2 separate regions of the Homo sapiens genome follow, and region 2 is linked to region 1. The links come from fine-mapping of genetic effects on gene expression. Tissue or cell type: whole blood. Region 1 holds a variant in brackets; the other region holds the start of a gene. All regions are shown on one strand. Distances are from middle to middle.

Region 1 (5,992 bases):
GTTCCCTGGACCCTCTTTTATAAGGGCACTAATCCCATTCATGAGGGCTCTGCCCTCATGACCTAGTTACCTCCCAAAGGCCCCACCTCTTAATACTTAATGCCATCACCTTGGAGGTTAGGTTTCAACATATGAATTTGAGGGTGGGAGGGATGCATACATTTAGACCACGGCAATCTGAGTCTCAGGAGGTGACATCTAAACCGAAAGGAGAAGTAAGAGGTAGCTGGGTAGAGAGTGAGGGGAGGGTGTTCCAAGCAGATACATGAGTGTGAGCAGAAGCTAAGAGGTAGCAGGGCCAGTGGAGCAACACTGAGGGGACTGAGAAATGCTCTGTGTTGCCAGAGTAAGATGGGAGGGGGTAAAAGGGAGAGAAGCTGTTGACAGAAAGGCTAGAGAGGAAAGCATGGGCCTGCAAATCTTGTAATCAAAGAATCAAGGAACTATGGGAGCTAACCCAGGTTTCTGGTCCCAAATCCAGGAGACGGACCAGGAGGCAGATGGACAGCCAGTCTACAGCTCTAGAAAGATCTAGAGACAGATTGAGGTTTGTGTTGTTGATACATGGACTGTGGTTGGAACCATAAGAGAACCTGAGATCCCCAGCTGGAGAGACGACATGTGTAAGGATGATAAAGGTGAGATACCACTGTGGGAATGGCCATCATTTTCCAAACTCTCCTGTGGCCCACGTATTCTACCCCACCCCCAAGAAATAGGGGTCTTTATCCCCATTTTACACATAAGAAAACTGAATTTGGAGAGATTATTTGTGTAAAGGAACCTGGTGGTAGGTGGTGAGGCTGGGGTTTGTGCTCTACCTGTCTCATCCCAAAGCTTAGGCTTTTATGTGTACATGTTACACATTTAAGTGAGCTTCAGAACTGTAACCCAGGACTCCCACTATTGGTCAGAAGACAAGGTAATCTGTGACTCTTTGTCCAGCACTGTGCTTATCACGTGGTACCCAGCCAGTCAGCACTGAGGAGCTAATTATCCCCCTCCACATCCAGAATAGTTTCCCTGACCCCCCAGCCCACGCCTACCCCTCTGTCATCTCCAGATGCCTCTACCCAAGGTACTCTTCCAGGAAACACCACAGGATCACCCTCTAGTGAGGTGGTAAGCTCTTTGTCACTGAAAGCAGAGGCAAGAGCCCTGGGAGAGGCCAGGAGAGAGGTCTAGTGAAGTTCCTTCCGGAGCTACCCTGGGAATCTCCCTCACTCTGCCACCAAGACTGCACTGTGGATTGCCCTTGCCTCTCGTGCCTTTCCAGCTGTGGCTCATGTGGCTTATGGCTCCTAATCTTTAGCATTCTGGTGCTCCACTCCAGCTGAACAAGCCTCTCATCCCATCTTCCAGGGGCTAGCTCAGCTCCCATCTTCCAGGAAGCAGTCTTCAGATAGAACAGGGACCAGAAACACCCTGGACACTCACTATCTGGATTCTTCAAAATACTCCACCTTACACAGCCTCAGAGGCCATCATTAATCCAGCTCTCACTAAGCACTTTTGAGCCAGACTCTGGGACAGCTCAATGAGGAAAACAGCAGCCCTGCCATTAAAAGGTTGATGGTAGAGGGCTTGGGGACTGATGTGTAGATGAAAAATAAAAAGGCGGCCAGAAATGGTGGCTCACGCCTATAATCCCAACACTTTGGGAGGCTGAGGTGGGAGGATCACTTGAGGTCAGGAGTTCGAGACCAGCCTGGCCAACACGGTGAAACGCCATCTCTACTAAAAGTACAAAAATTAGCTTGGCATGGTGGAGGGCACCTGTAGTCCCAGCTACTCAGGAAGCTGAGGTGGGAGAACTGCTTGAACCCAGGAGGTGGAGGTTGCAGTGAGCCAAGATCGCACCACTGCACTCCAGCCTAGGTGACAGAGTGAGACTCCATCTCAAAAAAAAAAAAAAGAGGTTTTAATTGACTCACAGTTCTGCATGGCTGGGGAGGCCTCAGGAAACTTACAATCATGGTGGAAGGCACCTCTTCACAGGGTGGCAGGAGAAGGAATGAGTGCCAAGCAAAGGGGGAAGCCCCTTATAAAACCATCAGATCTCATGAGAATTCACTATCATGAGAACAGTATGGGGGAAACCGCCCCCATAATTCGCTTATCTCCACCTGGTCCTGCCCTTGACACATGGGGATTATTACAATTCAAGGTGAGATCTGGATGGAGACACAGAGCCAAATCATATCAATTACTCTGAAGGAGAATATGACATAGAGCAAAAGGAAGGGGCAGATGAAATGCCCTCAGTGCTCCTAGAAGCAGGTGAGAGGACATCAGAAACGGGGAAGGGATGAAGGAAGGCTTCCTGGAGGAGGTAGTATTGGGGCTGTACCTTCCAAGAGAAGTGTTTCTACAGGCAAAGAACAGGGTGGAACTGCATTCCAGGTAGCATGCAAAACATAAGCAAAGGCCCAGAGTTTGGGTTAAGGTCACTAGTTGGTGTAGCTGAAGTACAGGGGTTTGACTGTATTGGGGTCAATTCCAGAGATTTTATTGAACCCCATGTTAAATGTACCATGGCAACAACTCTCTTCCCCTCAGTTTCACCATCTATAGAATGAGGCCACTGGAGTCAGTAACCCCTGGGCCCCCTAGTCCCTCCAGAATATGTCATTCTGCAGTGCCCAATCTCCCAGGCTCCTAAACACTTCCACATGTCAACCCTGACCTGGCTCCTTATCTTTGCCTATACAACACAGCCGGCCAGCCCTGCTTCCGCTTGGATGGCCTCCCTGTGGTCCTGGAGTGTACCGCTATTCTAGGGCCACCAGCCAGGTGGCCCCCTCTCCAACAGAAACACAACACCCAGGGTGGTGGGTCCTATGGAAACATCAGCCATTTCCCACCATCCTTCCCTTTTCTCCTCAGGCCTCAGCAGAGCCTGCGGAAAACGTGGGTTTATTTGGGGTCTGCGGGATACAGAGAATGTTATCATTCTCAGGGAACTCCAAGTCCTGGTTTCACTGCTTATTCTGGCCCCTCTCCGTGGATGCTGCAGGCCTATCAGGCAAGGAGGTCTCCCTCCTGCTTTCATACCACCCAGGGCTCCCAGTTCCAAGAGAGGTTTTGGGTTTCAGATAAATGAAGCAAATGCCTAAAGGGGTAGGCAACATCTTTAACTCCTGGAGCAGAGGGCTGAGCAAGGCCGAGGGCTCAAGCTGAGTCATTCCCCATCATGTCCCCTGACCCCCACCCTCGCAGATGGCAGGAATTTGCTTTTTCAAACTGCAATCTGAGAATTCTAGAAGCTTATGATCTGTGGATTCAAGGATCTTCAAACTGATGGAATCTTAGGCTGCCAGAACCTTAAAAATTGTTGAATCTTAGACTCCTAGAACCATGAAATTCTAGA[A/G]TCTTAGGATCAGACCATTGTGTCCAGGAAAGAGATGGATTCCATGGCTTCCTAGCTATGTAACTTTAGGTAAGTGATTCAATATCTCTATGCTTCCATTTTCTCATCTGTAAAATTGGGTAATAATTGTACCTACTTCCTAGAGTTATTATGTGGTTTGAACGAGTGAATATGTATAAAGCACTTACAACACTGCCTGGCACATGGAAAGCACCAGAGACGTGACAGCTGTAGTTCTAAGATCACACAGCAGGGTAACAGCAGAGTTTGTGCTACAGTCCAGGTCCCTGGCTTCCCTGTCCAGAATTTTTCTGCCATTCAGCCATGCCACCTCTCAAGATCATTAGGAAAGGACCAACCTAGGGACCAGATAGATTTTCAATCATGGCCCAGTGGAGACCCTGCTTTGGAAATGTCCATGCAGGAGACAGGTTTCCCATCACTGAGAAATACAATGGGCAGAACCATGTTTCCTCCCAGAACAAAAAACTTTTGGCAGATGGAGTCAGTGAAAGCCTCTTGCACAATTTAGTGCACTCTCTCAGTGGGCTGACTGGGCTCAGCTAGGTGGTTCTTCTGCCCTACATGTAAGCTGAGGCTGCAGTCTTCAGGGGACTCAATTGTGCTGGAATACCCAAGATGACTCACTCATATGTCTGGCACCTTGTTGGGGATGGCTGGAAGGCTTGACTCAGCTGGGATACTAGGGCATCTAGGTCTCTCCCTCCCCAAGTATCTCCCTCCCTCCATCCCTCCCCTAGCCTCTCCATATGGTTTCTCCAACAGAGTAGCAGGACTTATTATATCGTAGCTCAGGACTCTCAAAAAGGCAAAAAGAGAAATTGCTGTGTCTTAAAGTTTGGGCCTTTGTGATAAGCAGAATTCTAAGTTCTCCCCCAAGAATCCCACCCACAGTGTACACACCTGAAAACATGTACAAAATCTAAAAATATGATGGAAAAGACACTCCTTTGATTAGGTTACATTATATGGTAAAGTGATGGCATAGATTACATTACACCATGTAAGACTCCATTATAATAGACTGGAGAGAAATTCTCCTGCTGGCTTTGAAGAAGTAAGTGCCATGTTGAGAGAGAACCATGCTGCTAGGACCTTAGGTCAGCTTCCAGGAGCTGAGAGAAATTGCCCAGTTAACAGCCAGCAAGAAAATGAGGGCTTCAGTCCTATAGCCACAAAGAATGGAATCCTGCCAGCAACCTAAACAAGCTTGGAAGAGGACTTATGAGCCTCAGATGAGATTGCAGCCCCAGCCAACACCTGGATTTCAGCCTGGTGAGGCCCTGAGCAGAGAACCTAGGTCTCACTATTGGGAGAACAGCACCAAGCCATTCATGAGAGATCCACCCCCATGACCCAAACACCTCCCTGCCTAGGAGTCATCTCCCAACACCACCACATTTGGGATCAAATTTCAATGTGAGTTTTGGAAAGGACAAACCATATCCAAACCATGGCACACAGCAATCCAGAGACCAGGGCTGGAGGCCAGGTGTCTGGACTCTCAGCCTACGACGACTTCCATTCGGCTCTTGTTTTTAGGTTGAGTGAATAAAATCTGTCTCCTCTGTCCCCAAAGGCAAGGCACTCATTTTGTCTTGGCCTTCTGCCTCTCCTGAGCTCCACCCTATCCTGGTTTTTTGGGGATTCTGAGGCTCACTTTTTACTCCCTGGGTCTGACACGTTAAAAAGAGAAATCAGGAGTCTCCAAGAACTAGACCCCAATACACCTTCACCTCCAGAAAAGGACTGACAGGGTGGAGAAACCTCCCACACACAGCCTACCCAAGACCTGGAGGTTTTGTGGACAGGTGTGCACTAGGAGCTGGAGTCCACCCTGGTGCAGATGTGAGACCTGAATCCCTGACCCACTCTGGGACCTTAGTTAAATTACACCCTGTCTCTTTTCCATTCCTCACCAAAAATGAGGAAAATGCCCTAACAGGTGAGATAAACCAAGTGAATGCCCTTTGTAGACCACAAAGGGCTGATTCCTTGAGCAGAGTTCTTCAAAAGAAAACTTTAGCTCCTGCTTACTGATGTATCGTCCCTCTCTCTCCAATTAAGGACCCAAGCCTCCCACCATTTCAGTCCCCTTGTTCATCTCCTTCCCTTTCTCCAGTGGAAATTCCCAGGAATTCCCAGTCCGAGGAATTCCCAGGAATTCTTATTCTTGACCAAATGTCAACTCCTAAGAAAAACCTTCCTGATCTTCTTGTCTAAAATATCATCTTCCTTCCTGCTGTCTTCTCCTGCTCTTTTTTAATAGCACTTATCAGTGTCTGAAATTATATTAGGCACTTGTTTAGTATTAATTTCCCACACTAGATGATAAGATTAGCAAGGACAAGGATCTGTCTGTTATTCACCACCCAAGAATTTGACAGGTAATAGTGCTCAAAAAGTACTCATTGAACAAATGAATGAATGGAATCAAGACTAAGCACAGTGCAAAACTTCAATGCTGGTCCAGACAGGATTGTGTCTTAAGATACCAGCTGGTTCCATGAGGACTATAATGCAAAGGAAGCCTAACCTGAGCAGCCCACCTCACACTGGCCCCCTCTCCTGATTGCACTTAGAGCCTAAACCTTTCACTGG
Region 2 (5,496 bases), 320 kb after region 1:
CCTGGATTCCTCTCCCCAGACTGTCTGCCGAGTACAACACTCTGGCTAACTTTGCCTGCATTACCTCCTCCAGGATGCCTTCCTTAGCAATGTAGTCCACCACGCTGCCCTATGTCAGAGCCCTGAGCACTCCCTGTATGCTGTTCCCAGACTATTTACATGTCAATGTCCACCGTCCCTTTCTTCAGACCACCCCTGGAGGAGGGCAAAAGTGGGGGCTGGAGGGAGGGGAAGTTGCAGAATCTTCAGCAGCAAACTGGCTCCCTGCACGCCCAGTCTGGTATTGGAGCTAGACACTGCCACCTGCTGGCAGTGAGTGGAATGGCTGACAAGATGGGGTTGGGAGGAAGGAGACTGCTGGAAACAGTCCAGGCCCACTTTGGCTTTTCTGAAGGGCAATCGCATAAGGTCTGGCTGGATGGAGGGCTTGTCTAAGGGGCCTGATGGTTTTGCGTGACAGCTGGGCTGGAACAGGAAGGAGGAACTGAACGTCGATGGAACAGCTGCTCAGGACACACGGTGCAGCCCTGTGGGGCTGCTGAGACCTTAGTCCAGACCCTGGGCCCCAGCCAGACCAGTAGGGGGGCCCACCTTGTTACCATGGGGATCAGGGCTGTGTCCATACAGCTGGGGAGATGACCCTCCACCCGTGTGAAGACCTCCAGGGAGGAGGGACCAGCCTCAAAGCCAAGTGTCCACCCATGCTCCCTCTTTTCTGGAACAACTTGTTTTGCTCTAAAGCTTGGGACTTTGACCCAGGAGGTATGTTTTCCTCCTGTTGATCACCTGGTGTCCTTCCTGTTCATCCCCTTCCCCCACCACTCCCAAAGCATAGCCCAGGGGATCCTTTCCTTTCCCTGGGTTTTTCAGGGAAGTGGAGGATACTGGGGTGGGGAAGGCAGAACCTGGGACTTGAGTGCTGAGGGCACTGGTTGGAGGGGGTGGCACAGCTGTGACCCCCCCACCCTCCTTAAGTCTGTCCTTGCTTGGCTCCTGGGATACCCCACTTTCCTGGGGTTGCTTCCTCCTGTTTCCTCCTGCCCCTTCTTCCTTTGAAAGACCTTTGTGTGTTGGGGGCGTGTCTCCTTCTTTCTGTGCTCTCCCCTCAACACCCCTACCCCCGCTACACACACTGGGGAGACCATGAGCTCCCAGGCCTCAGTTACCATCCCTGTGCTGCAGACGGCTCCCAGATGTTCCACTCCAGATGCAGGGATTTTGCAGCCTTCCAGATGTCTCCCTCTGGAAAGTCCACAGGCACTGCAAGCATAATACCTCAAAATCTATAGCTCATTAATCCTCCAACCCCCCAAACTTGCTCTGGCCCCTACTGAGGCACTAGCATCTACCCAGCTGCCTACGCCAGAAACCTGGGAGTCACCTGAAGCCCTGCCTCCTGCCTGTACCCATTCTCCCAGCTTGGCACTGTGTTCCAGCAGCCACACCCCGGCTTCTCTACCTCCTCAACAGGGCTCAGATCTGTTCCCATGGGCACTTCCTGCCCAGGTCCAGGCACTGGTGTTGTGGCCACTGTAGCAGATCCCTGGATTTCTCTTCTCCAGCCTTTGCATGCCCCTTTCACTCTCCACACTGCATGGAGAGGTGTTTTCCCAAACGCAAAACTAACCATGTGACTCTCCTCCCTAAAATTCTTGGAGAAGGCACCAGTAGATGTTTGTTAAATTCAGCCCCATTCCTTACATTCCAATCAGTGATTCTCTGGCTGTTCATTAACATGCACAGTGCTTACTCCAGTCTGTGTTAGAAGATTCTGAGGACACCAAGTTGGGTGTGGGAGGGAGGCCAGGATATACATGTTTGGGAGGCATCACTCAACTCCAAGCAAAGTTCTCCCAGATCACCTTGAGACACTCCATCTTTGGATGGCAATGGGCCCGACTGCACACGCATGTGAACACACACACACACACCCACACACACCACACACACACACACACACACACACACACACACACACACACACACACACAGGAAGCAGGCCTGAGGCATGATGTCTGAGTGCTCCCGCTGGAGCAGGAAGGCAGAATCAACCTGCCATAGGAAGGGTTGCCCAGGAGGCCTGATGAATAGGAGTTTGGTGGCTTCAGGGAAGAGAGGCTGTGGAGGTGCCTTCAGCTCAGGTGCTGGCTCCTGGGGACCTTCCATCTCTGATGAGACTTTGTTCCAGTTGGCCCGCTCCTTTCTAGGGAGTCAGCATCTCAGCTTCCCATACTTCTGGGGTGGGGGGTGGGGCAAGGAGACCAGCATGACCCTTGGTCAGGGGCTTGCACAGGAACTCTGGCCATTCTCATTCCCTGAGCTGGAGGGCCAGGTGGACACCACGTGATCCTGGGGAGGCTTTTGCCTCTTCCGAGGGCTCTGGCTCCAGGGCCTCCCTGTTCCAGGGGCTAGGTGTGCCTTCCTCAATGCTGCTTTTGGCTATGAGGGTGACGGGCCCAGGGCTTCAGGGCCCCAGATCGCACCTTGCCATCTGGGGTGTCCGTCCTTTGTCCCCCACAGCAGGCTGTGTTTGCCCATTTTCTCCTCTGCCATGGGTGGAGATGGATCTGAAGTTGGGTGTTGAAGCCTCTGACCAAGGCTGTATCTTGTTTTGAGGCCCTGCCCGGTTTCCAGGGACCACATCTGGGGCCAAGAGGAAGAACCGAACTGGGACTAGGTTAGCTGTGCTGGGTCAGGGCCTGGGCATGGGCTGTGAAAGCTGGGGACTGGGACCTTCAGGCCCTCTATTGAGATCTTTGCAGAAGGGGGTGGATTTAGGAAGCTACTGGGCTGGGCCAGGGCGTGGAAGGCACTGAAGCCGTAGTGTGTCCCAGCATTAGAGTCCCAGAGTTTAGCTTGGCGGGGCAGGGGCAGGTGGTGGGGAGAACAGGAAATAGGCCAGGCTCTCGGCGGAGTCTGGCAGCTTTGAGCCTTCTCTGGGCTTCTGGGGTTTTCCCCAGGCTCCTGAGCCAGCCAGGACATTTCTTAATCCCACTGTCAGCCTTCCAAGAAGCCCCGCCCACTGGGCTCAGTCAAGGCAGGAGCGACTGTGTGTCACCCCTTTCCCTAGAATCCAGCCCCACTGCCAGGAAAAGGGAGCTCAGGGCATGGAGGTGAGGCTGGGACTCTCCCACATCTGCTTGTTCCTCATACCCACCTCCTTAGCTGGCCCCTGGAAGATGACCTCGAATGCCAGCCCAAGTGAGCTGGGCACCAGCCAGGGGAGGCCAGGTCTGGCAGCTCATTACCATGGGAGGGAGGGCACGTTCTCTCCGACGCCCGTCTTCGTGTCTCCTCCCTCCCTCGCCTTCCTCCTTCCTAGCTCCTCTCCTCCAGGGCCAGACTGAGCCCAGGTTGATTTCAGGCGGACACCAATAGACTCCACAGCAGCTCCAGGAGCCCAGACACCGGCGGCCAGAAGCAAGGCTAGGAGCTGCTGCAGCCATGTCGGCCCTCAGCCTCCTCATTCTGGGCCTGCTCACGGCAGTGCCACCTGCCAGCTGTCAGCAAGGTAGCTCAGGAGGAGAGGGCTGGGCACGGGAGACCCAGGGGTGGACAGGTGGTGTTCTGGCTCCCCTCCCCAGGGCCTTGATACTTACAGTTTGGAGGGGGAGCAGGGACTGCGCTAGCTGAAAGAATGTCCCAAGGCAGAGACCTCTGAACCAAGTCTCTGCCTGTCACTTGTTTTCAACGAGTGAAAACTGGCAGCAGTTGGTTCTAGGATCTCAGGGAGGAACAGGATTTGAGGCCCAAGCCCCAAGAGCAGGCATTGCCCAAGGGATGGCTGGGTCCTGAGTACAGGGGACCCGGGGGTACAAGTAGGGTGAGAGTGGGGCCCAAGCCACCCCTCAAAGACTTGGGCTTTGTCTCGGCCTCTTGGGCTTGGATAGAGAACAGTGCCCAGTGTGACTCCCCCAAATATCTGACCTCTTCGTCCTGCTCTGCCTGAATGGATGTGTGACCTTGAGCAAATCACTGCCCCTTCCTGAGACTCAGTTTTCTCACCTATAAAATGAGAACAATAAACCCCACCCTGCCCACCTCCCAGGGCTGCTGCCAGGTCAGAGGTGAAGAAGGGCTTTGCACCTGGTGAAGTAACTAACCCAAGGTCTGGCTTTCATTCTACACTGTCAGGCTGCATCTGCAGCCAAAGTCTGGGGACTCTGCAGGTGGGACTTGGTCCAGAGGGGACTGGCAAAGATGCTTTCAGAGCTCCCCTCCCACCCCCACCCCGAGCTCTTATGTGTGTCTGCTTCAACTCTGTCTCCCAGGTCTTGGAAGCCCTCTGGGGAACTGCAGACCAGAGAGGTTGAGTCACAGAGCACGGCAAGAAAGGACAGGGTTCAGACCACCTTTCTCCTGCCCCAGACACTGCCCCTTGCTGTATGTGCATGGGAGGAGGAGCAGGGACTGTGGTCCCTGGGGTGACTGGAGAGAATTGGCTGCAGGGTCTAGGAGGAAACAGGGAGGGGCCTCCAAGGGTTGAGCCCTAACTCCCCATGCTTGAGCAACCACTGACCTGAGGGAGCAGTCTGAACCCCTAGGGAAACAATGACTCCCAAATACTGCTTTTTGGCAGGTGTGGAACTGAGGGTAATCACACTGTGTGTCTTCTGCTTCCCCTGGAGATAAGTGAGGTCTGACCTCACTACAGGCCAGAGAGTTCCTAGCCTCCTTCCTCCTTCCCAATATTTGCCAGGCTCGGAGAAGAGGTCAGGCCTCCACTGCAGCAGGAGAGCTTTTGGTAGACTCAAAGGAGGACATTTGAGCAGGAGTGAGCCAGAGGAAGGTTTTCTCATGTCCAGCTTGGGTCCCTCAAAATATAGGGATGCAGGTATATTCTGGCCTGGAGGCAGGACCCCTCTGAAGCCCCCTGCTGACCTGTGTTTTGTCCTGGGACTTCTCCCCGCTGAGGGTCTTTTCTCTACAAGGCTGAGCTCCTGCAGGCTCATGGAGTGCAGTGATGCTGGGGAAGAGGAAAGTCCTTTGGGGAAGCAGAGGCCTGAAGGCAGGGACTTCAGGAAAATCTTGAGGGACTGTGTTGGTGTCAAGGGTCAAAAAGCAGAGAAGGGACCTGGTGCAGTAGCTCATGCCTGTAATCCCAGCACTTTGGGAGGCCAAGGCCAGAGGCTCGCCTGAGCCCAGGAGTTTGAGACCAGCCTGGGCAACGTAGTAAGACCCTGTCTCTATTAAAAAATAAAAAAAGTAGAGAAGGGTGCAGGTTGGGGCCTCAACCTAATCTCTGGCCCTAGTCCCTGGGCACCCAGCTGGGGGAATCAAAAGGAGCTCAGGTTTTGAGGCTTCTTTCCTGGTCCCCAAGACCCAGAGTAGAGTTCACCCCTCCATTCTGCCCTTCTAAAGATGTCCTGGTCCACTCCTCTCTCTGGGTACCCCAGGCACCCCAGATCTCCCCAGCTGAGCAGCCCTGAGAGTCTCCCACTCTCATACCCTTCCTACCATCAGAGAAACGTCTTGCTACAGAACAGGATCTTCTAG

What was found. PIP is the estimated chance that this variant, and not a neighbour inherited with it, causes the effect.
Region 2: it holds the start of PDZK1IP1, and the variant in region 1 is fine-mapped to the expression of PDZK1IP1 in whole blood (TOPMed, PIP above 0.99).

What each region holds. Positions count from the first base shown.
Region 1 is chr1:47,512,380-47,518,371 of GRCh38, reverse strand. No RefSeq gene overlaps it. Among named protein-coding and RNA genes, the nearest start is that of FOXD2, 77 kb to the right of the region's middle. The variant A/G (reference allele first, on the strand shown) is at 3,371.
Region 2 is chr1:47,187,881-47,193,376 of GRCh38, reverse strand. It overlaps PDZK1IP1 (PDZK1 interacting protein 1), which reads left to right and starts at 3,341. Exons shown (of 4, transcript NM_005764.4): 1 at 3,341-3,511. The coding sequence starts at 3,445. RefSeq lists an enhancer at 987-1,936 and a silencer at 2,766-3,060.